2 linked regions of the Homo sapiens genome follow. The gene in region 1 interacts genetically with each later gene. Each region holds a gene or a part of one and is shown on either strand. Other genes may lie near its edges.

Region 1 (3,655 bases):
GTCCAATAGAAATGTAATGCAAGCTGCAGATGCCATTCAACATCTACTAACCACATTGAACAAAGTAAAAAGAAACAGCTGAAATTGCTTTCAAGAATGTATTTGATCCAATATATCCAAAATATTATTTCAACCTGTAATAGTTTTAAGTTACTTAGTGTTCTTTTTTTTGTATGATACAAAGTCTTCAAAATTCAGTGTGGGTTTTTTTTTTTTGCTTTTTTTTTTGTTTGTTTGTTTTGTTTGTTTGAGACTGAGTCTCGCACTCTGTCGCCCACGCTGGAGTGCAGTGGTGCAATCTTGGCTCACTGCAACCTCTGCCTCCCAGTTTCAAGCGATTCTCATGCCTCACCCTCCCTAGTACTGGCATTACAGGCGTGCACCACCACACCCAGCTAATTTTTGTGTTTTTAGTAAAGATGGGGTTTTCCCATGTTGCCCAGGCTGGTCTCGAACTCCTGGGCTCAAGCGATCCACCCACCTTGGCCTCCCAAAATGCTGGGATTACAGGCATGAGCCACCGTGCCCAGCCTCAGTGTGTATTATATTTTAAGCATATCTCAATTCAGATTGGCCACATTTCAAGTTTTCAGTAGCTGTATGTGGCTCGTAATAACCGTATTGGATAGTTCATCTCTAGAACATCTAGAGAATGTGTGCCCATGATGTTGAGAAATGAGTTCCCTTGTGTCTGGTGTTTGATATTAAGTTATGGACGTTAAGAATGCCTGAATCTATTGCTGGCCAAGTAAGCCACTAACCTAGGTCATAAAGAGTTAGCTTTGGGACCATTTATTTCCATGATCAAAATAAATACATCTGGGTTTAACCTGAATCACCATTTAGTAACATAGTCATCAGTTTCAGTACCTTTGTCTTTTTCCAGGTAAAACTCTTTAGCCTCTTATCAAACATGTTATGCCACATCTAAATTCCATATTTTATGTAATATAAGGAAAAATAGTTTTATTTGTATGATTTATACTTCATGTGTTAGGAACCTGTGACTACATGTTCTGAACTGTTAGTAAGAAAAATGGTATTGGATACCTTACTCTTTAAGATTTTTAATTATTTTTGGTAAAACTGGGAAATAGCCGTCTGATTTGCATTTTATTTTCTTTTGTATTTTAAGGATATGGAATATTATCTTGTAAAATGGAAAGGATGGCCAGATTCTACAAATACTTGGGAACCTTTGCAAAATCTGAAGTGCCCGTTACTGCTTCAGCAATTCTCTAATGACAAGCATAATTATTTATCTCAGGTAAAGAAAGGCAAAGCAATAACTCCAAAAGACAATAACAAAACTTTGAAACCTGCCATTGCTGAGTACATTGTGAAGAAGGCTAAACAAAGGATAGCTCTGCAGAGATGGCAAGATGAACTCAACAGAAGAAAGAATCATAAAGGAATGATATTTGTTGAAAATACTGTTGATTTAGAGGGCCCACCTTCAGACTTCTATTACATTAACGAATACAAACCAGCTCCTGGAATCAGCTTAGTCAATGAAGCTACCTTTGGTTGTTCATGCACAGATTGCTTCTTTCAAAAATGTTGTCCTGCTGAAGCTGGAGTTCTTTTGGCTTATAATAAAAACCAACAAATTAAAATCCCACCTGGTACTCCCATCTATGAATGCAACTCAAGGTGTCAGTGTGGTCCTGATTGTCCCAATAGGATTGTACAAAAAGGCACACAGTATTCGCTTTGCATCTTTCGAACTAGCAATGGACGTGGCTGGGGTGTAAAGACCCTTGTGAAGATTAAAAGAATGAGTTTTGTCATGGAATATGTTGGAGAGGTATGTTTCATTTGCCACGTAGTAAATGATGGACATGCAAGGTTTATACTTTTGGAAAATTACCTTTTTATCTCTTTAAGAGATACTTGGTACATTTTGATATTTTCATTTGCAGATATGTAGAAATTTATTCAGATTTAGGAGAAGAGTTCACTGGCATATTTAGAAATAAAAAACTTTTATATGAATAAAAAATATACGTTAAAACAAATTGATATAGTCATCTTTCAACAAATACACATTCCTACTAGTCAAACCTAGGATTTGTAAAATTTAAAATATGACAACTGTTTTTACCCAAAAGTCCTAAGAAGAAACTCAGATGTAACACATGCTGCTTTGAAACTTGAAAGTTTTAATTTACTTCATCTATTTGACCAAATATGATTAAATGTAGTTGGCAGAACTCTATTTTGGATCAACATGAAAGATACTATATTTATGAGTTTTGTAAAATATACACAAGCATTTATTGCATCCATAATCTGTAACTTACTTTTGAACTGTGAAGACCATTCTCAAAACTACCATACAAATACTAGCAAATTTATTTGTATACAAATCATATATATGTATATATATATATAAATGTAAAAAGTATTTGCCGTGTGTCACATACTATTCTAAGCACTTGATGTATTAATTCACTAATCCTCTCCAAAACTCAGTGAGGTAGTACTGTTTCTTTTTTTTTTTTTTTTTTTTTTTTTTTTGAGAAGTAGTACTGTTATGTCCATTATTGTAGAGAAATTGAGTACCTTGCCCAAGGTCACACAGGTCACATAGTAATAAGAACCGAGATTCAAAGCTCTAAAATCAGTAGTCTTCACCATGGCACCACACTGCTTCAAACTGAAGGGTAGGTTGAGCTGTGACTAGAAAGACACAAGCATGGCTACATATCTGGAGTTGTCAACTCTGGATTTTTTAGTTGGAATTGGGTCACCTATAATTATCTGTATTCATCTATAATTCTGAAACTAAATTAGATGGCTGTTTTGATTCTTACACTTTTAGACAGTGGTAGATTATTATAAATTATTCAGTATACAAGATCTTGTATAATCAAATTACTCTTTTTGTTAACCAAAATTTTTTAAGTTGCATTCTTAATGAGTGCAGCAGCCAAATTTGGTTGGTAACATAAAGTACTTTAGACACTTTTGGTTTCTTAAGCCGAGCGTGTCATAAAACTTGTGTTCTTAAGAGCAGAACTGTAGATGACGATCTTAGACTTACAGAATTGCATGAAAATAACATATTCTACAAAAACAAAACCTTCCATTCCAAAGTTAACATAGCTTCTCCCCTGTATTTTTAACAATTTTCCATTTGTAACTGCATATATATAAGTTATAGGAAAAATGTGCCTGGATCATATTTAGAGCATATACTTGCAGATTTAGTCCTTAACATTCAGTTGTGTCCTGTAGAGAGCTATAGTTGTATAGCTTTTTGAACATCCTAATTATAATGAAAGTAATGCAGTGTTCCAATGTACTGCTCAAATCCTGTTTAAAAAGTCATAAATCAACCAGTTACAGTTAATCCCAGCACTTGGGGAGGTCAAGGCTGGAGGCTCACTTGAGCCCAGGAGTTCCAGACCAGTGTGGGCAACATAGTGAGACCCCACATCTCTATAAAAACTAAATCATTAGCTGGGCATGGCGGTATGCACCTGTGATCCAGCTAGTCAGGAGGCTGAGGCAGGAAGATCGCTTGATCCCAGGAGTTAAAGGATACAGGGAGTCATGATGGCACCACCGCATTCTAGCCTGAGTGACAGAGTGAGACCCTGTTTAAAAAAAAAAGGTCATCAGTCTTTTGCATTATCATTTTTCTTCCCCT
Region 2 (2,466 bases), on another chromosome or scaffold:
AGCAAGGCCCCGACACGCCGGCCTCGCCGGGTACGGCCATGCATGGCAGTCCCGGAGCCTGCAGTTGGGCGCAGGCCCGCCATGCAGGAGGGGCCTTCTCCAGTGACCTGTGGCGGCGGTGCGGAGCCTCCGCCAGCCTTCTCCTCGCTGTGTGGCCACCCACCCCGCACCCTGCCGTCCTCGCTGGGCCTCCGTCTGTGGTGGGGTGGGGGTGGTGCGGGCCGTTCCCTTGACGGCGTCCCCATGGGGCTTCCAGCGCGGTGGAATGTGGACAGCGCCATCCCACCCGAGGACCCATGGGGCTGTCTGGCACCAATAGGAGAAAGGAGGCCGGGGCTGCAAGAGCCCCGTGAGGCAGTGGCAGGGGCTGAGGGGGTCGGGAGGGATGGAGCTGGCATCCGGGACACACTGTCTTGGTGACGAGGAGGCGGAGCAGTCCCCAGAGGGTCTGGGAAGACTCAGTGGCGAATGGCACCAGGGAGGACCGTCAGGCGGAGGCTGCCCACAGAAAACGACTTCTGCTGCAGCCCTTCCGGGTGCTGATGTGACTGTGGAACACGAGGCCGAAGAGACTGAGGCGTCCTCCTCACCCTGGTGCCTTGGAGAGGAGCCCAGGATTCCGGGTGGCCACATGGCCCTGGGCCCTGGCCCCTGGCACTGGCCTGTGATGATGGATTCTGAATTGACCATAGAGAGGGGGACGAGGTGGGTGGGCCTGACCTAACCACGCAACCCCTTTAAAAGCAATTCTCTCTGGAGACCCAGGGCTTGGAGCTGCTGGGGCCTGGATGGAGGAGCTGCGTGGGAGTAAGGTAGGTGGTCCCGGCCGGCAGCTAGCAAGGAACCTAGACGCTGCCCACGCAACCACAGGGACCTGGGCTCAGCAGCACCCTGCCTGTGCAGCCCGAGGCCCGGCACGCCCAACCCCTGCTGCGCACACTGGGCCGAGTGGGTGGCCGCCATGGCGAGCTGCGGGTGGGTGGCGTGGTTTGTTACCCAGCGACGGGAAGAGGCAACACCACAGACGACAGCCAGGCAGACGGGGAAGGAGGCACCTGGGGCTTTCCAGGACCGAGTTCCGAGAGGGCGGGGCCTGCCGGCAGAGACACCTGGTCCACAACCTGCCCCAGCATGAACATTAACCAGAGAGCCAGGGACGCTCAGAGGTCAAGAGGTTAAAACCCAAACCAACAAGCGGGTAAAGGCGTGGACGAGAGCAGCTCTCCGTCAACCTTCACGGCGCGGGCAGTGACAAGACAGTAAACCAGGCGAGCACGGCCGCAGGACAGGACCAGCCACAGCCCCCAAAGCCAAAGGCGCGGGAAGCTGCCTCCTGGTTTACCCCAAAGAAACAGAGTTCAGAGTGGCTCACCTGGCGTGGACTTTGGCCTCTGCTTCGGGGTCTGATGGACTAAGAATCTATAGGCGACCCCTCCTCGTGCAGAATGCAATTCCGGAACTAGCAACGGCGCACACACGAAGGTCTTGATAAGCAGCAAAATGGAGAGTGAGGGGCTTCCGACTGGAGGGGCCAGGCCCAGCTTTCACCAGGGGCAGCTCGTCTGGCAGAGCACACAGCGCTGCTCCGAGCTTCTAAGATGGGTGGGGTGTCAAAGTCTGTGACACAAATCTCTGCCCGACCAGAACCAGATAAAGACAACAGTCCAGAGAAGGACGGCTGGAGTAAGGCAGATAGGCAACGTGGGAGGCGGGGCCTGCGGAGAGAGCCCAGCCAATCCTAGGACTGGAGAGAAGGCACAGGGGCCACATGGGTGGGTGGGGGGAGGGCCTGCGGAGGGAGCCCAGCCAATCCTAGGACTGGAGCGAGGTGCAGAGGCCGCGTGGGAGGCGGGGCCTGAGGGAGACCAGCCAATCCTAGGATGGGAGCAAAGTGCAGTGGCCACGTGGGAGGCGGGGCCTGTGGAGGGAGCCCAGCCAATTCTAGGACGGGAGCGAGGTGCAGAGGCCACGTGGAAGGCGGGGCCTGTGGAGGGAGCCCAGCCAATTCTAGGACGGGAGCGAGGTGCAGAGGCCACGTGGGAAGCGGGGCCTGAGGAGGGAGCCCAGCCAATCCTAGGACTGGAATGAAGGCACACAGGCCATGTAGGAGGTGGGGCCTGTGGAGGGAGCCTGGCCAATCCTAGGACTGGAGGGAAGGCACAGGGGCCACGTGGGGTTGGGGGGTTCTGCGGAGGGAGCCCAGCCAATCCTAGGACTGGGGCGAAGTGCAGCGGCCACGTAGGAGGCGGAGCCTGTGGAGGGAGCCCAGCCAATCCTAGGACTGGGGCGAAGTGCAGCGGCCACGTAGGAGGCGGAGCCTGTGGAGGGAGCCCAGCCAATCCTAGGACTGGGGCGAAGTGCAGCAGCCACGTAGGAGGCGGAGCCTGTGGAGGGAGCCCAGCCAATCCTAGGACTGAGGCGAAAGCACAGGGACCACTAGAGAGGCCGGGCCTGCAGAAGGGGCCC

Evidence for each region.
Region 2: changes in SUV39H2 (region 1) and EHMT1 together harm fitness more than expected from each alone (negative genetic interaction), as found in Homo sapiens cells (one large-scale study listed by BioGRID).

Annotation. Positions count from the first base shown.
Region 1 is NC_000010.11:14,895,711-14,899,365, forward strand, and holds part of SUV39H2 (histone-lysine N-methyltransferase SUV39H2), read left to right. Parts: intron 1-1,135; coding exon 1,136-1,807; exon of another isoform or gene 1,808-3,539; coding exon of another isoform or gene 3,540-3,602; intron 3,603-3,655. UniProt on the Homo sapiens protein: Histone methyltransferase that specifically trimethylates 'Lys-9' of histone H3 using monomethylated H3 'Lys-9' as substrate.
Region 2 is NC_000009.12:137,831,850-137,834,315, reverse strand, and holds part of EHMT1 (histone-lysine N-methyltransferase EHMT1), read right to left. Parts: intron 1-2,466. UniProt on the Homo sapiens protein: Histone methyltransferase that specifically mono- and dimethylates 'Lys-9' of histone H3 (H3K9me1 and H3K9me2, respectively) in euchromatin.